4 linked regions of the Homo sapiens genome follow. The protein of the gene in region 3 interacts with the protein of the main gene of each other region in a pairwise test. Each region holds a gene or a part of one and is shown on either strand. Other genes may lie near its edges. The genes, in order: FAM124A, PPP1R12B, PRKG1 and RBAK.

Region 1 (3,382 bases), on a different chromosome or scaffold from region 3:
CACTCTTAGCTGGGGGGTGGTATATCTCTAGAGACACAGCAGAAAAATACTGGCATTTTTATGCAAATAAATTCTCAACAAACTTGTCATAAAATATATTTTTTGAATATTCAGCATTTGAGGTATGGTTTAGTGGGTTTATACAATTTAAATGGCTTATATAATTATTTGAAATGAAAAGAAAACCTAGTCAGCCAGAACCAATTTGGCAATTTTTCCATGGTATGAAGGCAAATCAATTAAGGCCAAAACGTTGAATGTGGGAGAGATAGTAAGTGACTTGTATGAGGGATTACTGCATAATAACGTAACGCACACCTTACTGGATTCTCCATATATATTTACATTACCAGAGAACAGTGGCCCTAGGGATGTTTAAGCACTGCTTATAATGGAAAAAGTCAGCTTGAGAAGTAAACGTATATCAGACTACAGGTAATTCCTCATCTTGAAGCCATGCAACACCTGCAAATCTGGATTTATACAAAAGTTGCTAATGTGTTTCATAAAGATTTAGCATGAGTAACAGACTCTTGGTGCATTTAAAATATGTGAGTTCCAGAAAGTAGATTTGCATACACCTTTTCAACAGCACATTTCACTGGAATGGATGAGGGGCTTCTGAAGACCACTCCACTACCTGAATTTATTTGGATCACTGAGGAAGAGCATTTGTTGGGATTACAGAATTATAGGCCATTAGACATCATGGGTAGGTAGTCTTAAGATCCTTCAACTTTCAAAAACCACAGTCTAAGGACTATATTCAAATGACAAGAGCCGCACTGTATACTGCTTTCTGCAGTGACCATGCTGGGTCACGCATCCTATGTTTCTCATTTTTAAATGATTTGGAACATTTTAGCCAGCATTTTGATCACACAGATTAATAATGCTGTTCTCCCCAAAACGGGAAACTTTACCTGAAACGCTCTCCTGAACAAACACCAGTGCACTGCCAGCCTCACATGATTGCATGGGAGCTTTAATTAACGCTGGAGCCCAGCAACCTTGGCTTTTCCTGCCTGTTATCTGCTACTGTCACACCGTGAATGGTATTTGAATCTCACCTCCCTCTCACCTCAGTAAGAGTATGTTTGTTTACAGCCCCAACCTCAGCAATGCCAAAGGCTGGCATCGGGGGCAGTGCCAAGCTGTCCCTGGATACTATTTACCTTTGAGGAAGAACAGCATGGGTTTGCCAAGCTCAATTCCCAGGCTGGTGCTCCTTGAATTAATCATGGCACAGTGTTCATCTCTCTGGAAATGCCCACGCCAGCCCAGACACAGCCTCAGAGTCCTTTCCAACACGACCCTCCAGGCAGCAGTTACCAACCATCAGTCTTCAGCTGAAGCTTCAAGTCTTTGCCATCCTTGTAATGACAGCCTTAGGCCTTGCCCCAAGCATTCTGGACTCTCTAACACTCAGAATTGTAATGTAATATTCTGCTCTAATTTAAATTTTTAAAAATATAGTCTCCTAATTCAGGATAAGGAGTAAGCAAACTTTCTGAAAAGGGCTAGATAATAAGTATTTTAGGCTTTGCCAGTCATATGGTCTCTTGCAGCTACTCAACTCTGCCACTGTAGTATGAAAGCAGCCATGAGTAATATGTTAATGAATGGGAATGGCTGAGTTCCAATAAAGCTTTATTTTTTTTTTATTTGAGACGGGGTCTTGCTCTGTTGCCCAGGCTGGAGTGCAATGGCGCAATCTCAGCTCACTGCAAGCTCTGCCTCCTGGGTTCAAGCCATTCTCCTGCCTCAGCCTCCCAAGTAGCTGCGACTACAGGTGCGCACCACAATGCCTGGCTAATTTTTTGTATTTTTAGTAGAGACAGAGTTTCACCATGTTGGCCAGGTTGGTCTCAAACTCCTGACTTCGTGATCCACCCACCTTGGCCTCCCAAAGCACTGGGATTACAGGCATGAGCCACCATTCCCAGCCAATAAAACTTTATTTACAAGAACAGCTGGTGGGCCAGATTTGGCCCAAGGGTCATAGTTTATTATCCCTTGAGCTAGGCTGCTGCCTGAGGTTGATTCAACATCCCAGCTCCAGTCAACAACAAAAATTCTAAGTCTCCCGCCTAATGCTGCTGTGGTGTGTCATGCCAAAAAAGTGGGCTACTCAGGTTAGACCAATGACTTCAGAACCACAGGGCTCAGAACAGGAAGGAGCTTCTTTCTGCAGAGCTGATTCCTGGAAAGCCACCAGCACTCCACCTTCTGCCCAGAAATGTGATTCAGTCAATAGCTGATGAGGAAAAGCAACCTGCAAACATTAGGAAGAAGGAGAAAAATAATTCAGAGGTGATGATACCACCTCCAATGAACAGGGAAGCAAGTTCATCAGTAACAAAAGTCAGTGAGGCAAAAAAAAAAAAAAAAAAAAAAAAAAAAGGCTAATGGCCGAGGGCTGGCTCCTTCTTTCTCCCTAATCAGTGTCCTTATTTCAGTGTGCTCACATGCTCGCCTAGGACTGCTTTAGAGTACAACTCTGGACCCGCCCTCATCACAGTCCAATCTACCAAACTGAGTGACCCTAAAGGACATCATAGACAACATTTGAAAGCAAGAAATGCAAAATGTTCCCATAGCATCAGGTGAGCAGGGAGAGGATGCCCACTGTAGACCACATGGAAATGGCAGTCCCTCCACGGAGAGGGAATCACAGGAACACATTTACCAAAGCCTTCCCTTCCATTCCTGGCCATTCCAGTAGCATCTTCCTCATCCAGAAGGGCTTCCAATACTCTCTGGAGGATCCTGACTCGTTTGGAGTATTATCCTTGTAAAAGATGCTGGCACATTGTAGGTGCTCAATAAATGTGTTCAATTGAAAAATATTGAGGTTGTCTCATAAATTATATCTATGTATTAGGCTCTGTAGTGTAAGAAGTCTAGATTGTAGCCCTGGTTTTTTGTCGCTTAATGGAACCGTGTCTCTTGTTTCCTTGGCCTTACGCTTCCTCCAGCATTGCCAGGGAGGGGATGTGTTGGTAAGTGCTCTGGTTGAGTTACATCCCATCCCTCATTTGCCTCTTTTCCAAGTAAGATCCCCTCAACCCCAAATTACTGCTCACGGTCCCACTTTGGCCTACACTAAACACCACCTAGTGTCTGCTTTAAAGAGCAAATCTTTCTCTGTCTGTCCCCAACTCACCTGGCAAGTCCTACAGAAATCATCTTGGGTCACCTCAACTGGTTAAAAGGAGCATAAGAGGAACTGGTGGAAGCAGTGGGTGAGCCACTGCAGAGACTTTTGTGACATGGGAGGGTTGATGTGTGCTTGAATAAATTGGGTTTTAGTAGTGGCTGCTCCTTGAGCCTCCGGGTCTGAGGGCAGGGGAACAGTCACAGCAGAGTGAACTGGACTGTA
Region 2 (7,040 bases), on a different chromosome or scaffold from region 3:
TATTTAAAATGTCCATTTGTTATACAAGCACGATATAAATTATCTGGATAATTGCTTCTTTTCTCTCTTTTGGCCATGGCCACTTGACCAACTGTGGATTATTGTCTTGGCATGTTAGAAGCCCCCAGATAATACTGGGGGACAATTTTTCTCCTCCTACAACGTCACAGTAGATGATTTGCACTGCAGCTTGTGGTGCCTTGATGCTTCTTTTGGACTTAGAGACCTTCTTTCTTGGCAGCCTTTGCTGAGACCACGAGGTGCTTGAGTCAAAGATAACAAGCTCCAGGGGGCCTATTAATAATACTTGAGTTAGACTGGGATAAGAAGTATCTCAAAGGTTAGACCAACTCTGATGAAAGCCTTGGAAACTGATGCAGACTAAATTTCAGTGACTAAATTAAGATTTGGTGTGTATGCATGTGTTGTCCTAGAGTCCTTAACAAGGTATTAATCTGATTATAGAACCCTTGAAAGCACTTGTTTGCTCACAAAGGAATTTCTGTTTCATTTGCGTATACACATTGTAAGGCCAGGAATATTTGTTAATAATTCTATGTGGAATAGTACTTTAAATTTTTTCTTTTATTTATTTATTAAGTTTGACTGTTAGCACCTATCTTGATATCCTTAGCATTATAATCTTAGGTACTCTAGGCCTAGATACATGATATCTACCAAATTATTGCTGTGGGAAGAGGCAAGTGCCTACTTTCAGAAAAGAGATTTTTCTAGGATTTATTAAAATGAATGCTTACTTACTTCAGCATGTATTATGTTGACTCTTAAATCTGTGCTGAGTGTGGTGAGGGATGCTGGATTTCAGTCACCATAGGTCTTGTCTCTTAGCACGGTCTGATCAGTCTTCATCTGGAGGGCTACCAAGGAGATTAGAATAATTCCATACTTGACTCAGAAATTCACACTGGCGGCCGGGGGTGGTGGCTCACGCTTGTAATCCCACCACTTTGGGAGGCTGAGGCAGGTGGATCACGAGGTCAGGAGTTCGAGACCAGCCTGGTCAACATTGCAAAATCCCGTCTCTACTAAAAATACAAAAATTAGCCTGGTGTGGTGGTGCACACCTGTAGTCCCAGTTACTCGGGGAGGCTGAGGCAGGAGAATCGCTTGAACCCAGGAGGTGGAGGTTACAGTGAGCTGAGATCACACCACTGCACTCCAGCCTGGGTAAAAGAGTGAGACTCCGTTTCAAAAAAAAAAGAAAAAAGAAATTCAGACTGTCTTTGTAATGTGCAGGGTCCAAATTTGGACCCTCAAGGTCACACCAGACTGGAATTCAGTTTGTAGTTGAATAAGCCTTTGTCATTCTAGAGTTGCCTCAGTCTGACGCTGTAGACTTAGGGAGGCTAAAATCACGTATTTCTCAGGAAGAGAGATGGAGATAGGAACAAGTGAGGGGAGGAGGATAGGCTGAGCAATTTATATTCAGACAGAGACAGAAGATGAGTAAGATGAATGTGTGTTCAGTTCAATATAAAATAGTATATTTTGTGTGCTAACTCATATGGTAAAATAAAACTTGTGCTTTTAACCTTTTCTCTTTTATTCTACATTTATTACTCATTCCTCTCCTGGTTCCACCTGCGAAGTTACTTTTGCCTTACCCTGAATATTGATGAATTCTGCTTAGTGTCAGGACCCATGGCAACATAGGATTCAGAAAAATCCTGTTTGCTCCTTTATTATTGTGCATCTAGAATAGTCATCTATCCTGAGCCATTTTAGTAGCTTACCTCTTCAAATTGCTTAATATGTTGCATCAGACTATGTTGGACCTCAAAGCCATATTGGGAAATTCAGCTTTTTGTCTGTGTGGTTTTTTTTTTTGAAAGTATAAATAAAAATGACTTTCATTTGTTCCGCAGAATTTCTTCCCTATTCTTCTTCTTTGTGTGTGTGTGTGTGTGTGTGTGTGTGTGTGTGTGTGTGTGTGACAGGGTCTTGCCCTGTTACCCAGACTGGAGTGTGGTGGTGTGACCATGGATCACTGCAGCTGCAACCTCTCAGGCTCAAGTGATCCTCCCCACCTCAGCCTCCTTAGTAACTGGGACTACAGGCACACCCCATCATACCCAGCTAATTTTTAAAATTTTTTGTAGACAAGGGGGTCTCACTATGTTGCCAGGGCTGATCTTGAACTCCTGGGCTAAAACAATCCTCCCCCCTCGGCCTCCCAAAGTGCTCGGATTACAAGTAGGAGCCACTATGCCTGGCCTCTCCCCAATTCTTCAACTCCTGCTGAATAACTGTATATCACCATTTGGGCTTTTAGAATCTTCTACTCTGTGAGTATTTTGAAATAGGCAACCTGTCAATATATATGGATTAAGCACAATTCTGCCAAAGGTAAGGAGTTGGACCAGTCTTGTTGTTAACATAAAACTAAGTAGTTTATTTTTTTCTTTTAAAATATTTTAAAACTAAGATATACTTTATATACAATAAAATTCACTCTTTGTAGTGTAGCATCGTATGAGTTTTGACAAATGCGTACAGTTGTGGAACCACCACTGTAATCAAGATGTAGAACGTTACCCTCAAGATTTTTTGTGCTCCTTGGTAGACAGCTCCTCCCACCCTCAGCCCATGACAGTCATTCATCAGTTATTTTGTCCCAATAATCACAATAGATGGAGGCTGAGGCAGGAGGATCACTTGAGCTCAGGAGTTTGAGACCAGCGTGGGCAACATAGCAAAACCTTGTCTTTACAAAAAAATAAAATTAGCCAGGCATGTTGGTGCATGTCTGTAGTTGCAGCTACTTGGGAGGCTGAGGCGGGAGGATAGCTTGAGTCCAGGAACTGGAGTTGCAGTGAGCCATGATCGTGCCACTGCATTCCAGCCTGGATGACAGAGTGACACCCTGTGTCTATAAACAAACAAGAGCCACCATGCCTGGCCTAGAGTAAAGTTTTTGATATTTGAATAATATGCCATTAATTACATGTGTCCCATTCTTTTTTTTTTTTGAGACAGAGTCTCGCTCTGTCAGCCAGGCTGGAGTGCAGTGCACGATCTCGACTCACTGCAACCTCTGCGTCCCGGGCTCAAGCAATTCTCCTGCCGTAGCCTCCTGAGTAGCTGGGATTACAGGGGGGTGACACCACGCCTGGCTAATTGTTTTTTTTGTTGTTGTTTTTTTTTTTGAGACGGAGTCTTGCTCCGTCGCCCAGGCTGGAGTGCAGTGGTGTGATCTCAGCTCACTGCAAGCTCTGCCTCCCGGGTTCACGCCATTCTCCTGCCTCAGCCTCCCGAGTAGCTGGGACCGCAGGTGCCTGCCACCATGCGCAGCTAATTTTTTTTGTATTTTTAGTAGAGACGGGGTTTTGGGCGGGTGGATCACGAGGTCAGGAGATCGAGACCATCCTAGCTAATTTTTGTATTTTTAGTAGAGACGGGGTTTCACCATGTTGGCCAGGCTGGTCTTGAACTCTTGACCTCAGGTAATCCACCCGCCTCAGCCTCCCAAAGTGCTGGGATTATAGGCGTGAGCCACCATGCCTGGCCGTGTTCCACTATATTTTTCTCTTTAGAGGTTTTCTTAGATTCTTAATTAACAACTAATATTGAATGTCTAAATGGTAGATTGTAAGTCTGTACTAGAGTATATATGTGGTATAATTTCTGCCCTCAAGGAACTAACAGTCAGGTTTGGAAACAGATAAATAAAAAAAAGATTCCTTTTAGAGTTCCAAATTCTATGATACCCTGGAAAGGATGTATTCCTAAGTGGAAGGACAAACGAAGGCAGTCCAGGATGGTAGAGCAGCATGGGCGAATAAATAGGAATGGGTGTGGTGTGTAGGCAGAGGATGCTAGGAAATCCTAATGGATGTGTTTGAAGGGTTAGAGATGAGAGAGAGTCAGGGTGACATCCTAGAGGGCTTTGAACATCAAACATCAGGCCAAGGTGGCTTGATGGACTCCTTAGTAGAGAATTTTTGTGGGTTTGAGCAGGGTCGTTACCCAACCAAAGCAGTATTTTAGGATTCTGAAGCAGCACTTGGATTTCTGAATGAATGGAGAGACAGAGTTGAGAGAACCAGCTGAGTGAATGGAGATGAGAAAAAAGTGTAGTACAATTCTAGCTTGTGAGTCTGAAAGAATTGTGTTATTCAGGTAGAAATAGTATTCAGTCAACGATTAGACTGAGGTACTCTGAAGACGTACAAATAGAAATCTCCTATAGGTGTTTAGCATGGTGGCCCATATCTGTAATCCCAGCACTTTGGGAGGCCAAGGCGGGAGGATTGCTGGAGACCAGGAGTTTGAGACCAGCCTGAGCAATGTGGTGAGACCCTATCTCTCCAACCCCCTCCCCACCCAAAAAAAAATTAGCCAGGTATGGTGGTGCAAACATGTGGTCCCAGTTACATAGGAGGCTGAGGTGGAAGGATCACTTGAGCCCAGGAGGTTGAAGCTGCAGTGAGCTGTGTTCACACCACTGCACTCCAGCCTGGGTGACAGAGCAGAGCAAGACTGTGTCTCAAATAAATAAGTAAGTAAGTAAGTAAATATCCTGTAGGTATCTATGTGACTCAAGGCTAGTCACTTTCCTATCTATGCTCCAGTTTTCTCATATTTGAGACAAGAGACTTGATTTTAGCATAAAGGTGAGAGTTGAAGTAATGAGTGTGAAAGAGGAAAGGGAGAAAACATACAGAGAAGAGCAGAAAACACAAGCAGCTGGTAGGCAGAGAATGCAGAAATTCAAGTTAGAGCTGTTGGAAGATGTGGTAGGCTGACTAATGGTGCCCCAAAAATGTCTAAGTCCTAATCCCCAGAACATGTAAATATGTTACCTTACAGGGTAAAAGAGACTTTGGGGATATGATTAATTTAAGGATCTTGAGATAAGGAGATTAGCCTGGATTATCCAGGTGAGCCCAATATAATCACAAGCATCCATATAAGACAGGCAAGAGAGCAGAATCAGAATAGGAGATGTGATGAAGGAAGCAAGAGATTGCAGGGATTCCAGGAAGGTTCTGTGAGCCAAGGAATGCAGGTGGACCCTAGAAGCTGAAAAAGGCAAGGAAGTGGATTCTTCTCTCAGAGCCTCCACATAAGGAACCAGCCCTGCCAGCAATTTGACAACTCAGCCCAATGAGACTGATTTCAGACTTTTTTTTTTTTTTTTTGAGACTGAATTTTGCTCTTGACCCCTAGGCTGGAGTGCAGTGGCACAATCTTGGCTCACTACAACCTCCGCTGCCCGGGATCAAGCGATTCTCCTGCCTCAGCCTCCTTATTAGCTGGGATTACAGGCGCCCACCACCACAACCAGCTAATTTTTGTATTTTTAGTAGAGACGTGGTTTTGCCTTGTTGGCCAGGCTGGTCTCAAACTCCTGACTTCAGGTGATCCACCCGCCTTGGCCTCCCAAGGATTACAGGTGTGAGCCACTGGGGATTACAGTTGTGAGCCACTGCATCTGGCCATGATTCAGACTTCTGACCTCCAGAATGCTATGATAATAAATTTGTGTTGTTTTAAGCAACTAAGTTTATGGTAATTTGTTATAGCAGCAATAGGAAACTAATACAGAGAAGAACCGACAAACAGTGATATTGAGGTATTTCAAGGAATGGATGGTAAATAATGTAAAAGGAAATTGAGGAGAAGGCCTGTAAAAAGACTGTTGGATTTGGTCATTTAAACTTTGAAAGAGCACTTTCAGTAGAGATATTTTTGAAGACTTTTGTGGAGGTTATATGAAGTTTTTTTTTGCATTAAGGATAACTTGTCTTTCTGTTGACTTTTGGGAGAAAAAATATAGATTTTCCATCAATATAATTGTAATTTAAATGAGGGCCCAAAATATGTGGCAAGACACTTTAAAAGCTGAATTCTGGCTAGTTCAGGTGGTTTCATTATTCATCAGTTAAGAATATTTTAGGATATTAAACCTGATAATAGGGGCAAGAAAGTTATGTCCCTATTACTGATGGCTGCTTATCTAGTTTATTTTACTTCTCAGTCTAGTTTGGCCCATTTCCCACTCATTAGCACTTCCACTGGAAGGCAGCCTTGGGGGAACAGTGATAGGGAGGTTAGTACCAATAAACAGTTTTTTCTGCCATTCTCTTACATTTATTTCTTGAGTGTCTACTGTGTATCTGATTCTGTGCTGCTTGTTACTTTTACTTAGCAGTAGATACAATTTAGAAACTAACTTGAATTTTGGGATTGGTCTCCAGAATAGTTGGTTACTATTATAACTTATAATAGGAAATTGGCTACATAACCGATTTCTGTTCTAGCATTCTGGCTCTTGAGGAGTGTCAGGGGAGTACTATATTTATCAGTATTTGAGACTATTTTATGCTTATGGAGGAGAATTACATATATATCTTCTCTAAGATGGTGAAATATGGAGGTTTGGGATGTCTAATAAATCTTTAATGGTTCAACATAGTAATAATAAATCCAGATTAAGACCTTGGCCCAGAATGTCATATAGGACAAGGAATTGAAGCCTCATTTGGATTGCTAATTGAGTGCTTGCCCAATTTGTTGATGTTGTTTTTGTCTGTGAATATGTTGGGGTTTTTCCTGCTTTTGAAGTGTCATTTAAAAAAATTGTTTCTTCTGATCTTAGATTGTAACCAGTTTGAGTAAAATTTGGGGGCTTAAAGTTTTATCAGGCATGCAGAGTTTATGTTTGTTTCATGAGGCAATTCAATTGAAAAACTGAAGCTTTGCCCAGGCGCGGTGGCTCACGCCTGTAATCCCAGCACTTTGGGAGGCCAAGGCAGGCAGATCACGAGGTCAGGAGATTGAGACCATCCTGGCTAACACGGTGAAACCCTGTCTCTACTAAATATACAAAAAATTAGCCGGGCGTGGTCGCACGCGCCTGTTGTCCCAGCTACTCGGGAGACTGAGGCAGGAGAATCACTTGAACCCGGGAGGTGGAGGTTGCAGTGAGCCAAGGTGGCACCACTGCACTCCAGCCTGGGTGACAGAGCGAGACTCCGTCTCAAAAAAAAAAAAAAAAACTGAAACTTGAGTTTTCA
Region 3 (7,040 bases):
TATATGATGGCATGTATATATATATATGTATATATATGATGGAATACTACACAGCCATAAAAAGGAATGAATTAACAGCATTTGCAGGGAACTGGATGAAATTGGAGACTATTATTCTAAATGAAGTAATTCAAGAATGGAAAACCAAACATCACATGTTCTCACTGATATGTGGGAGCTAAGCTATGAGGATACAAAGGCATACGAATGATGCAATGGGCTTTGGGGATTTGGGGGGAAGAGTCGGAGGGGGGTGAGGGATAGAAGACTACAAATATGGTGCAGTACATACTGCTTGCGTGATGGGTACACCAAAATCTCACAAATCACCACTAAAGAACTTACTCGTAACCAAATATGACCTGTACCCCAATAACTTATGAAAAAATAAAAAAATAATAAGCTATAAGAGGGATAGCTGGGCTCTCCCTTTGTGGCTTATTATTGCTTTCATGTTTAATTCCACCTGTAAATCTTCTTCTATTCTAATTAGAAAAAAAAGTAGAAGACTTCAAATAAATCAGTGAATTGAAATATCAAGTCAAATATAATACAGTAGAAACACATTAGATATGCCAAATGTTAACTCACAGATTAAAATATTAACTTTGTGCCACAAACTATACATTCTGAGGAGAGAGACCCCATCTGTTTTGTTTATTACTGGATCCCCAGCCTCTATCACAATGCCTGGTATATAATCTCTATGTACATATTAACTAGCAATAATACATAATATATACACTATGATATAATAGCTTAGTATAGATGTTAACCTTATCGCCTAATGCCAACATGATTACATTCCCTTTTATGCTTTTTTAACCTTAAATTTAAGAATTGAAATAAAATACCGATGCAATAGGATACAATGTGGTAACAAGAAATCCATTTGGCATATATAAGAAAGGCCATGGGAATAACACGAAAGGGCCTGTTGTACAAAGATATGAAGGTACCATAAGAACACCATTAGGAATGAGAATTTAAATCAACAGTTCATAAGGAACCACTTGTTTTATTCTGGGGTATCTGCAAAGTAACAAATATAAAAACATTACATGGTTATATACATCAGGGCTACCTATAGCTAAGTTTCAGAAGGATGCTACCCTGTGAAGGAGAGTCTGGGAGGCAGGACTCAAACAAATAAGAAAAATACAGATGTCTAAATGTGAGTGTTCAAAAGAACAAAGATGACTTTTGTATGATCAATAAATCATTCATGGAAAATAATCAAAAGATTATTCATAGGAAAATAAAAGTGTGTTTTTAAAAAAACACAGGGTAGATAATGATCTCCTGAGACATTTTATAGGATAAATTATATTAGAAGATAATTAGATAATTTGCTAGTTATCTAAATATGAGATGGAAAATTAAGACAATGAATTTGCATGATTAGAACAAACAAGCACCATGTAGACAAACTTTCCTTGCCCTGGAAGGGTAAGAAGGTAAATCTAAATCAGATAATTTACATGAAATATTGCTTATAAGTGGATTCTTTTCTTTTTCCTAAGACTAGCCAAGGGATAAAGAGATGGCTGGAAACTTTTGTTAATTTTGAAACCAAAGAGCCATGTAAAGGTAGAGGGAAAAATTACTTTGGAAAAAATTCACAATGTCACAAAAGGCAAACTGCCTATCTGGAAAAAGAGTAGAGCAATTAAACTGATAGTTAATTCAAATTATAATTATAAAATAACTATAATTCTCTTTCTGCTAAAGCAATGAATTGAATTCCAGCTACAGAGCTAATTCTAACATTCATGCAAAACTAAGGCCATGTATATATTTTGCTATGTACCATTTTTATGATCGACTAAGCCTGTATTGTTAGTTACAAAGTGAGTTTTGTTATATGTACAGTAAATCATATGTGTATAGTGGGTTATGCCCTGTGCTTACTTTAAATATTGAAATATAAGCATGTGTAAATTATAAATATGATTATTATACTTTATCATATTAACTCTTCTTATAGACCAACATGGGCAACTGTTTTTAGAGATATCATAGAAATTTCTTAAATCTCCTACCTATCCCTGAGAATGGTCCAGAGCTCTCCACCTAGACAAGCTTCCATCAACATATACAAATATTTGCTGTCCTTAAATGTTCTGTACAGTCTGTAAATTGCAAACAAGAAAACAAAGATTATAAACATTACTGTCTTTTACAAGTGTGCAATTTTGGGGGGCCCAGATTATAGTTTTGATTTGCCAAGCTCAAAATTTTGTCAGAATGAGAGAGATCTAAGCCCACACATGGGGAAAAGAAGCCAATGGCTCATGAATAGGATTTTAATAGAAGAAACTAAGGCGCTAATCTCTCCCTTGAAATGGATTAATCATAATGATTATGGACAAAGAGGGTTTCTTGGGATTCTTTCCATTCCAATTTGGGTAATGTTTTGAGCATAGACCCTTGGGGCAACATTTAGTGGTCATCAACATGCAGTGAAAATGGGAATAAAGTGGATTAAACTTTACAGATTCAGACATGTATAAATTTCATATGCTATTCGCTCAAATTCATGTTACATCTTGTTTTCAGTAAATGCCACTGGAAAATTCACTACAAAAAGCTGCTTCCACATATAAAAATCTCCCCATTATCCATTTATTAGTACTGAGGTGGAATGGTCAGCTGTCATTTCATTTTTTTAGATCTTCAAAAAATATTCAGATAATTAAAGGTTAAATAGTTTGATTTTGGATATTTTGTCTTTTAAGCATCAAAGGTCTATGTAGAGTTTGGGGATTTAAAAAAAGATAAAAATGGAATGTTAGAAACTCTGGTACCTCCTTTGGGAAAACACATTGTTTTCAGACACTAATTCTCTTTAAAAGAAAGAATAGAGTCAGAACTTTATTTTTAGAAATCAAACAAAACTTTCTTAAGATTAGATTAAAAAGAAGTTTCTTTGTGCATACGAAATGTGTTAACAGTGAGCACAAGTGGCAGAGGGTTTTGTGGTGGATTTGTCACTTGGAGTTGGGTACGTCTGTCCCTGGCATGGAGCCTTTACCTCACTATGAAATCGGAATGAGCCCCCTGCATGATCTGCTTCTCTGAGCGGATGTGCTCCTGCTGTCTTGTGTCCACAATGTGACGTTTCTTGAGAATCTTCATTGCAAACGTTTTGGATTCTTCACTTTTCAACTGGACCTTAAAGAAAGAGAGAAGAGAGTAAGAAAAAGCCCATAGACTTGTAAGAGTGCATTATTATCCCCAAATTAACAGGTACATGGCGCACTTAAATGAACCTCAGCCACCTCCCAAGTCAAAACACAGTAAATCCTTGGTAGAGCTGCGTTTAACATCCAGGGCTCACAGCTATCATCCAATCTCATGCTCTGAATTGGCTGAATTTTAACTAACTTGATTCCAAATTAATTGTGTTCACGTGTGGATTAGAAGAGGGAAAATGTACTTAGTTCTAGTTTTATTATTTCATGTCATAGAGTGTGTTTGAATACATTTTATAGTTCTTCTGTCAAAAGAGTAGAAAAAAAACTTCTTTTCCAATTTTATTTCAGTAAAGATGGCCAAAAATAGGGTTATATGGGCCTTTATATTCTTCCTCCTTAGTTCTAATCCACAAACATTTCTAATTTTTTTTATCTTTTTTTTAAAATTTTATTATTATTATACTTTAAGTTCTAGGGTACGTGTGTACAACGCGCAGGTTTGTTACATATGTATACATGTGCCATGTTGGTGTGCTGCACCCATTAACTTGTCATTTAGTATTAGGTATATCTCCTAATGCTTTCCCTTCCCCCTCCCCCCACCCCACAACAGTCCCCAGTGTGTGATGTTCCCCTTCCTGTGTCCATGTGTTCTCATTGTTCAATTCCCACCTATGAGTGAGAACATGCGGTGTTTGGTTTTTGGTCCTTGCGATAGTTTGCTGAGAATGATGGTTTCCAGCTTCATCCATGTCCCTGCAAAGGACATGAACTCATCATTTTTTATGGCTGCATAGTATTCCATGGTGTATATGTGCCACATTTTCTTAATCCAGTCTATCATTGTTGGACACTTGGGTTGGTTCCAAGTCTTTGCTATTGTGAATAGTGCCGCAATAAACATACGTGTGCATGTGTCTTTATAGCAGCATGATTTATAATCCTTTAGGTATATACCCAGTAATGGGATGGCTGGGTCAAATGGTATTTCTAGTTCTAGATCTGTGAGGAATCGCCACACTGTCTTCCACAATGGTTGAACTAGTTTACAGTCCCACCAACAGTGTAAAAGTGTTCCTATTTCTCCACATCCTCTCCAGCACCTGTTGTTAACATTTCTAATTTTTAGCTTGAGTGGTGGACCCTAGTCTCTGCTGAGACTGCAGACTGTTATTTCTTCAGTACTGACTGTATTCATTTCTTCTTTTTAACCTTGCAGAATTTTCCCTCCCTACAGTTTAAAGAGAAAAAAAATTGTAACAAGATTTTTTCAGGAGATTTTGAAAACCGTTTGTTTTTCTTCTCAAACAAGCATGATGGCTTTAGTTCCTTTGACCTCAAACTTTACTCTCTAATAACTGGGAAGACTTGGAGGCTTAATATCTTTCAATGTGCCATGCCTCTCTTGCAGCCCTCATGGCTCCCAGTGGCTCCAGAGGAGGCATGGATCTTCCACATGCCTTACTCAGACAGGGTGCTGTTTATGGTTTTACAAGAAATTTCAAGAAGGTGACTTGTAACAAAAACAAGAGAGGTAATAGAGCTAATTACTTAAAAGCAATGTAAGGACATTATCATCTAGTGCTCTCAAGCAGCAGAATCCTCAAGATGATACCAAACAGCCCATATTATTTGGGAGTAATGTAACCTTGGGGAAATAACATGGCATGCTGTTTCTGCTTTTCAGCTGAAGTATGGCTGTCCCCTCTTTAGTCGTTAATTATTTACTGCTTCATCAGCAGGGATAGCGAAGGTCTTAAGTGTCTTGTTCCTGCACACATGTACAGATTGAGTTCAATCTTCGAAGATATTCATGTGGCAAGTTCCTTAGGAGGGAGCATGAAGATACTGCAAATAAATGGGCCTCGGTTAGCTGCCAGCAATTGTGAATCAGTATGACAGGTAGAGGGAAAAATGGGTATTTGAAAATGCTTTTAACAGCCAAAGACCCTGTACTCTGGCTGTGAAACTCAAAGATGACAGATTAGTGTGCTACAAATAAATTCAGTAGTAACTCAAAATAAAACACCAAATGTGAAAACTCACTTCTAAAAGAAATCTGGAAAGCTAGGGAAGATGGCATGAAAAATGAGCTATGTTAGAGTACTACAATTCAGAGAAGAAGAAGTAAAGTCATATTCCCTCTTCAGAGTCATTCCCAGTTAAACTAGTGAGGACTGTTGTGCAGTTGTTCAAAAATGCCTACTATAAAAATGATTCTCTTTAGTGATGATAACACAGATACACAGATTTTTTTTTTTTTATACTTGTACACAGGGTAGGAGGAAAGAATTCAGCCTTTATAGTCACAGGTCTGGACTTGAATTCTGACTCCACTTAGTCCCTCTCAGTCTAAGCAACTAGTCTCTCTCGGGCTAGTTGCTTAACTGCTCTGAGCCCTAGTTCTAGCTGAGGATAATACCAGATACCACAGTTATTATGATCCTAAATGAAAACGCACCACCAAATGGGCATTCATTGATGGACTCTGCTTGTACCCAGCAATCTCTACTGAATAGGGCAAATCAAATGTTGCTTTTTCAGAGGAACAAACTGATTTCCAAAAATGATTCCTATCTTTCCCAAGGTCACAGAGCTATCAAGTGGCAGAAATGGATTCATGTTCAGGTTTTTTTTTGGCCCAAGCTATTTCCAGTATATGCTGCTTCCCTTCAGCTGAATACAAAACCAATTAAATGCATAGTGATTGATACTTTGCAAATCAGAGTTTAACGGAATCGACTAACTCATGGACTGTGAGATAAACTGAACAATATTTCTATTACCTTTAAGCTTAACTTATGCTAGGCATGTGATTTGGGAGAACAGCCAAAGCCTCACTGACATTTTCCTAGGCACTTCCCAGGGACCTCCATGTGTTAGGGGTTTGAGATACCCGATTGCTTGAATACTGCAAGGAGAAGCCAAGTGGGGTAGAAAGAGGATAATGAGAACTGGTGGGTGGCAGATGTCATAAGAGATAGGTAAAAGCTACAGAAAGCAACAGAAATTCTTGGGAGTCAGGCTTACTAGTTGCCAATTTAAAAAGCATTAATTACAAAAAGTTTATAGAACTATACTGCTAACCTACTGAGGCTTTCTGCTTTGCCTTTACTTTGCATGGAACCAGTCCTTGGGTCTAGAATCATCTTCCTTCTTTGGACTCTATACAAGATCTCATGAGCTCCTTAGAGCAGGGCCCTTAGAATCTCCACTTCCAATTTAAACCAGAATGCTACAAGACTCACAGAACTCAGGATCTTAACCAGAAAGTCAGGGTACCTGAGGACCACTGGTGTGAGCTAACTCAACAGAGACAGTGGAGAATGTTGAAGTTAATTATTTCCATAAAGCCCAAGTAACATATTCATCAGAAATCTTCTGATAAACCAACAACTTCCCAAAGATCATTCAAGAATGTTCAATTCAACATTGTTTCTAATGGAAAAATTTAGAAACAATCTAAATTTCTAGCAAGAGGAGGAGCTTGAAAAATAAATTATGGTATATCCATGCAATGCAACTGTAAAAATGATGACTTAGAATTATATTTAACATTACGGAAAAATAACCAAGACATATATATGAATAAAAGATACTGATTACAAGTCAGCATGCATTTTATGATCTCACAGTGTGTTCGTATGTTAGTGTGTATATATACATTCATATGTATATATATACACACACATCTATATGTGAAATAAATGTATGAAGAGACAATCAGAAATGTGTTCATCAATACGTTAACAATGATTTTTCCTTAGGGAGATTTTTAGTTGATTTTTACTTCTTTTTACTTTTTGAATTGCTTAACTTTTGAACAATCCTCATACCTTGCTT
Region 4 (7,040 bases), on a different chromosome or scaffold from region 3:
GCGGGTACATCTTCCATCACCAGAGCAGGAGGAAGAGGGAGGGGGAGGCGCTACACACTTTTAAACAACCACGTCTTGTGATAAGTCACTGAGTGTCAGGAGAACAGCACCAAAAGGGAAATTGCCCCCATGATCCAATCACCTCCCACCAGGCCCCACCTCCAACATTGGGGATTACAATTGAACATGAGATTTGGTTGGCGACACAAAGCGAAACCATATCACCATCCATGACATCATTTGCATTCATTATAAGGAGAAACCAACTTTGTTACTTGTGGATTTAAAAGATTTTCTAGGACTTGGAAAAATTTCTTCATTCAAGTTGATATAATTGCGGATAGCTTTCCTAATAACAACCATTAAGTTACCATAACTTATGGCTTATTCTTGGTGCTTATGTAAGCAGAGGGCCTGCCTGCTGCCCAAGGAGAACTTGGTGCATATAATTTTTCCAGGGAAGGAAACATTGTGATCCCAGTAGACAGAATTCTGTTTTTACTGTTGAGTCCTAGATCATGGGGGGAATGAATGACATGATCATCCTTCAAATATTTGTTCGTCTTTCAGTTTGGGTTGCACAGCAAACAATACAGTTACTCTCTTGTGAAGATTTCCTCATTTCTGTTTCTCATTTCAGTTCTCAGTGTTTTAGTTTTGTCCTTTTCACGTTGCTGAGTCAGTCTGTAAAGATTACCAGTGATTTCATTGCAGTCAAATCCAGAGGGGATTTCCTAGCCCCTACCTCCCAGGACCCTTTGTCTGCCTTTGACATCTGTTACTTCCAAACTGATACTTTCTCCATGGAGTCTCTCTTTTCTTGGCTTTTAAAAAGATTCGTCTGTAAGTATTTCTGCTTGTCTTTAAATGATGAAGTCTGTTTTGTTTTGTTTTGTTCTGTTTCTTTTTTTCTTTTTTTGAGATAGGGTCTTGCTGTGTCACCCAGGCTGGAGTGTAGAGACGTGATCACAACTCACTGCAACCTCAGTCTCCTGGGCTCACACGATCCTCCTGCCTCAGCCTCCTGCATAGCTACAGGCGCAAGCTGCCACACCCGACTAATTTTTTTATATTTTAGTAGAGACTGGGTTTCACCATGTCACCCAGGCTGGTCTTGAACTCCTGAGCTCAGGCAGTCTGCCCGCCTCGGCCTCCCAAAATGCTAGGATTACAGGCGTGAGCCACTGCTCCCAGCCTAGAGATGTATTCCCACTGTATTGCTCAGACTGGTCTCAAACTCCTGACCTCAAGCAATCCTTTCACTTTGGCCTCCCAAAGTGCTAGGATTACAGGTGTAAGCCACCACACCTGGCTAATAAGGAATCTTTTTGAAAGGGGCTAGGAATAACCCATAATACTCTCTTAATACATGTGGCAATTGGGTTAAATCTTTTAATAGTTCCTATATTATGTCTCTTGCGTGCTCATTGTTTTGAAGAAACTGGGTTGGTTATCCTCAGTTTGGATTGTGTTACCCTTGTTTCACCTTTAGCACATTTAAAAAATATATCTTTTATGCCTTGTTAAATTGGTAGTTTGATCTGGAAGTCTAATCAGGTTTATGTTCAATTCTTTTCACACAGCTGTACCGTACGTGGCATTTGTCTACTTCTGGAGGCATGTGTTACCTTCTTTGTTTTTGTGAACTTAAGAACTATTGACTGTTGATTATTGCTGTGATTTACTAGTTCATTAGGGGAGGCAAAATGGTGATGTGCTAATTCTACCATTTCTTCTTTATTTACTAGCCAAAATACCTTTCTTTTCTTTTCTTTTTTTGGAAACAGAGTCTCACTCTGTCACCCAGGCTGTCGTGTTTACGGCTCACTGCAGCCTCAAACTCCTGTGCTCAAGTGATCCTCCCACTTCAGCCTCCCAAGTAGCTGGGAGTATAGTCATGTGCCACAATGCCCAGCGAATTTTTTAATTTTTAGTAGAGACAGGTTTTGCTATGTTGCCCAGGCTGGTCTTGAACTCCTGGGCTCAAGTGATCCTCTTCTTTGACCTCCCAGTGTTGGCATTACAGGCATGAGTCACCACAGCTGGCCTAGAATACTTTTCTAAAGATAAATTTCTGTTCTCTATTTGGTTATGTAATTCATGCAGGAAAGACAGTTTCTAAAATGTTGAGTAGGCTTCTAAGCAGGAAGGTTTTTTTGTTTTGTTACCATTATGAGCTCGTGGGTTTAAACAGATAGTAAATATTTCAGTACATCAAAGTTGTGATTCTTTTTGAAAATTAAATGGCTCCATCTTTGGCCAGACAAAATCCCTTTAAGTTGGTTTCTGAGTCCTTTTGAAATATATTTGATATATTTGATAGCAAATCTATACATACAATATATATTTGATAGCATTATTTTCTGTTCAGCATTTTATTTTGAAATCATTTCAAATTTTCAGAAAAATTGCACGGATTTTACAAAGAAATCCCAGCTACTTCCTTTTGTTCAGATACTTCATTCTTAACATTTTCCCACATTAATCATTTATATGCATATATACATATATGTGTGTACATATTTTTATATATTTTTTTTCTGAACTGTTTGAGAGTGGGTATGATTTGTCATGCCTCTTTACCTTATAAAGTTTTAGATTATATCTCATAAAATCAAGAACTTTCTATTAAATACCCATAGCACAGTAATTGAATTCAGGAAATTTATCATTGATTTAATACTTTTATCTAAACTGTAGTTCATTTTCCAGTTTTGCCAATTTCCCAATAATTTCCTTTATAGCAATTTTTAATTTTTGGTAGAAGATTCAGTCTAGGACTGTCAATTGCCTTTAGTTTTCATGCTTTTTAAGGCTGTTTAATACGGATTTGTTCCTCAGTGCCATTATAATATTTGCAGAATACAGGCCAATGATATTATAGAAGTCTTTAAATTTAGGTTTCCCTGATCTTTCTTCATGATTAGATTTAGTTGGTGAATTTTTGTCTGGAACACTACATGGGACCTCTTAAATTTATGGCTCAGAATAGGATCTGTCTTGGGAAACTTCTGTGCATGCTTGAGAAGATGGCTTGTTCTGCTCTGGTTGGGTGGAGTGTTTGATAAATGTTAATGAGATCAAGTTGGTTGGTTGTGTTGTTCAGGTGTATTATATCCTTGTTGATTGTGTGCCTACTTGTATCAATTGTTGGGGAGAGGGGATTGAAATCTGCTGCATTTGTGGTTCTCTTTCTCTTTGCAATTTTACCACTTTTTGCTTTATGTATTATATTAGATACATAAATGTTCAAGGTTATTACATCCTGTTGATTAATTAACCACTTTGTAAAATGGCCTTCCTTATCCCTGCTAGTATTCCAGGCTGAAATGTACTTTGTTATTTATGTAGCATTCTTTTGAGTAATGCATGCATGGTATATCTTATTCCATCCTTTTACTTATAACGTATTTGCATCTTTATATCTAAAGTATTATTTCTTGTAGGCAGCAAGATTTGGATCTTGCTTGTTTTCATCAGTCTATTTCTGCCTCATAATTGGGGATGTATAGACTGTTTACATGTAATGTAATTATTGATAAAACTAGTTAGGTTATAGTCCATTGCCTTTGCTTTCTTTTAGTCTCATCTTCTTTGTTTCTTTTTAAAATGTCTTTGTTTGTCTTCCTTCCTCTTGATTAATTGATAATTTTTTATGATTCTACTTTATATCTTTTGTTGAGTTTTTAGCTATCACACTGTTTTGTTATTTTAGTGAGTTAGAATTTATAGTATGCAACTTTAATTATCATAGTTTATTCTTAAGTGATATACCATTTTTCTTAGAGTAAGAGAAGCTTACAATAGGATACTTTCATTTCTCTCCTCTTGGTCTTTACACCGTTGTTCATTTTATTTTTACAGGTGGTATCAGTGCCACACAGAATCTATTACGTTGTTGTTAATTAAACAGTTATCTTTGATTGATTGATTGATTGATTGATTGATTGATTTTGAGTTGGAGTCTCACTCTGTCCCCCAGGCTGGAGTGCAGGGGTGCGATCTTGGCTCACTGCAACCTCTGCCTCCCAGGTTCAAGTGATTCTCCTGCCTCAGCCTCCCGGGTAGCTGGGATTACAGACACCCACCACCACACCCGGCTAATTTTGGTATTTTTAGTAGAGATGAGGTTTCACCATGTTGGCCAGGCTGGTCTCAAACTCCTGACCTCAGGTGACCTGTCTGCCTCAGCCTCCCAAAGTGCTGGGATTACAGGTGTAAGCCACCACACCCAGCCCAGTTATCTTTTAAAAAGATTTAAGTAATGAGAGAAAATACACAGTTACCATTTCTGGTACTCTTCATTCCTTTGTGTAAATCTAAATTTTTATTTGCTGTCATTTTACTTCTGCCTCAAGGACTTTCTTTAACATTTCTTCTAGTTGATGAATTCTTGTACGTCTGCAAATGTCTTCATTGTGTCTTAGCTTTTAAAGGTGTTTCTGCTGGATATTTCTCCACAGTGCTTTAAATATGTTTCTCTATTGTCTTCCTGCTTACATTTTTTTCTAAGAGAAATCTGATCTCATATTCATCTTTGTTCCCCTGTATATAACATGTCTTTTTTTCTTTCCCCCCTTATGTTGTAAACTTTTTATCACTAGTTTTGGGTAATTTGATTGCAATATGTCATGGTATCATTTTTTTCATGTTTCTGTTTTGGGGATCACTGAACTTCTTGGATCTTGGGTTTATGGTGTCATCACTTTGGGAACATTTTTATCATTATTTCTTCACATACCCACCACCTCCCCTCCATTGATTCTTGTTGCCTGTATATTAGGCCACTTGAAATTTTCCCACAACACACTGTTGCTCTTTATTTGCTTTTAATTCTTTTTTCTCTGTTTCATTTTATGTAACTTCTGTTGCTGTCTTTATATTCACTAATCTCTTTTTTCCACGATGCTGTTAATCTTGTCCAGTATAATTTTCATCTCAGATATTGTAGTTTCTATCTGTAGAAGGTTAGCGTGGGTCTTTTTTACATCTTGCCTGTCTCAATTTTTTTGAACATGTGGAATAGAATGATGAACTCTCTCAGTGCTCTGTGTGGGTTGTAAACTCTGTCAATTCTGGGCCAGTTTTGATGGACTGATTCTTTTCTTCCTTATGGTTGTAATTTCCTGCCCATTTTCCCATCTCGCAACTCTTACACCTCACATCTGTCTCTGTTCTTCTTCCCTGCTCTGTGGCCTGGAAACACTCAAGGCAGAAGTTGATTGGTTCACCTTGTTTATTTCCCATCACTCATAGATAACTCTACTGCCTGATAATCAGTGCCTTGAAAACCATTGCTTCAGCCCGGGCGTGGTGGCTCATACCTGTAATCACAGCACTTTGGGAGGCCAAGGAGGGCAGATCACAAGGTCAGGAGTTTGAGACCAGCCTGGCCAACATAGTGAAACCCCTTCTATACTAAAAATACAAAAATTAGCCAGGCATGCTGGTACACGCCTGTAATCCCAGCTACTTGGGAGACTGAGGCAGGAGAATCGCTGGAACCCGGGAGACGGAGGTTGCAGTGAGCCAAGATTGTGCCATTGCACTCCAGCCTAGAAGACAAGAGTGAGACTTTGCCTCAAAAAAAAAAAAAAAAACCATTGCTTCATATATGTTCTCCGTTTTATTTTTCTTTCTGTTTTTGATTTTGTTGTTGCTGCTGTTCTTTGTTATGTGCCATTTCAGGTTGGAGGGTATATCCAGTACCTGTTAGTTTATCACAACTGAGGGCAGAAGTCCTCATGTCTCTCTCTATATATATTTTTTCTAATATATATATTTTTTTCTTTGTAGAGACAGGGTCTTGCTATGTTGCCAAGGCTGGTCTCAAACTCCTGGCCTCAAGCAGTCCTTCTGCCTCAGTTTCCTGAGTGCTGGGATTACAGGCATGAGCCACTGCACCTGGCCTGGATCCAGTTTTGTCCATGTCCAAATGGTGTTTTTCCCTGAGCTGTTTTTGATTTTCTTCCACCTCATATGAACTGTAGTGTCAGCTTATCTAGTTCCAGGAAAAAGCTTTTTGGTATTTTTACTGGGGTTGCATATTTATAAAGTAATTTAGGGTAACTGACTTACCCTAGGTAGGGTAAGTTGACCTTAATAATACAACTAATTTTTTTTGTTTGTTTGTTTTTTAGTAGAGATGGGGGTTTCACCATGTTGACCAGGCTGGTCTTGAACTCCTGACCTCGGGTGATCTGCCCGCCTCGGCCTCCCAAAGTGTTGAGATTACAGGCGTGAGCCACCGTGCCCGAGCACTTTTACTTTTTCTTAGTTATATTCCTCTAATTGTTTTATCTTCTCTAATTGTAGATAATGAGCATTTTATTAATACCTTGTTCTTGATCTTAGTAGGAAGGTATGTAGTTTTTCCCTGTTAAGTAAAATCCTGACTTTTGGACCGAGAAGACTGAGGCATAAATGTGTGTGTGTGTGTGTGTGTGTGTGTGTGTGTGCGTGCGTGTATATACACACAAACTGTATATATATGTGCTTGTGTGTAATTGAAATACATATGTCACATATATATCATACATACTATTGCATATTAGGGTGCAATATTTATATTTGTGTATATACATGTTATTGATGTTAATGAAGTATCCATCAGTTTCTATTTTCTTTAGTTTGTTTTTTTAAATCAGCTTTTTCTGTCAAGCTTTTTCAGGTATCTTCACGGATACAAGATTTTTCTTCTTTGCTGTGTTATAGTGGCTTATCATATTAATAGATTTCCAAATATTAAACTAGTCTATATTATTGGAATAAGTCCCATTTGGCTATTGTATATTATGTTTTTAATCTGGTACTGGATTTTGTTTGATTATGTTTCATTTTGGGTTTTTGTATTGATGTAAGTGGTATTGGCATGTAATTTTATGTTATTTATTGGTTGATCAGTCTTCTAACCCCTACTACCTCCTTGCCTTCTGGACTAACTTAACCCAGAAGGTTATTACTCTCTCTCGGTGATTTTATCAGCTCCTGTGGCCTGACTGTGGATAAGCTTGGATGTTCTGCTTTAGTTTCTCAGCCCA

Evidence for each region.
Region 1: the proteins of PRKG1 (region 3) and FAM124A interact in binary tests that used the Homo sapiens proteins (3 or more experiments, as listed by UniProt).
Region 2: the proteins of PRKG1 (region 3) and PPP1R12B interact in a two-hybrid assay, tested with the Homo sapiens proteins (one study listed by BioGRID).
Region 4: the proteins of PRKG1 (region 3) and RBAK interact in binary tests that used the Homo sapiens proteins (3 or more experiments, as listed by UniProt).

What each region holds. Positions count from the first base shown.
Region 1 is NC_000013.11:51,281,393-51,284,774, forward strand, and holds the end of FAM124A (protein FAM124A), read left to right. Parts: 3' UTR 1-2,847; downstream 2,848-3,382.
Region 2 is NC_000001.11:202,351,677-202,358,716, forward strand, and holds part of PPP1R12B (protein phosphatase 1 regulatory subunit 12B), read left to right. Parts: intron 1-7,040. UniProt on the Homo sapiens protein: Regulates myosin phosphatase activity. Augments Ca(2+) sensitivity of the contractile apparatus.
Region 3 is NC_000010.11:52,267,484-52,274,523, reverse strand, and holds part of PRKG1 (cGMP-dependent protein kinase 1), read right to left. Parts: intron 3,175-7,040; coding exon 3,035-3,174; intron 2,133-3,034; coding exon 2,043-2,132; intron 1-2,042. UniProt on the Homo sapiens protein: Serine/threonine protein kinase that acts as a key mediator of the nitric oxide (NO)/cGMP signaling pathway. GMP binding activates PRKG1, which phosphorylates serines and threonines on many cellular proteins.
Region 4 is NC_000007.14:5,048,823-5,055,862, forward strand, and holds part of RBAK (RB-associated KRAB zinc finger protein), read left to right. Parts: intron 1-7,040. UniProt on the Homo sapiens protein: May repress E2F-dependent transcription. May promote AR-dependent transcription.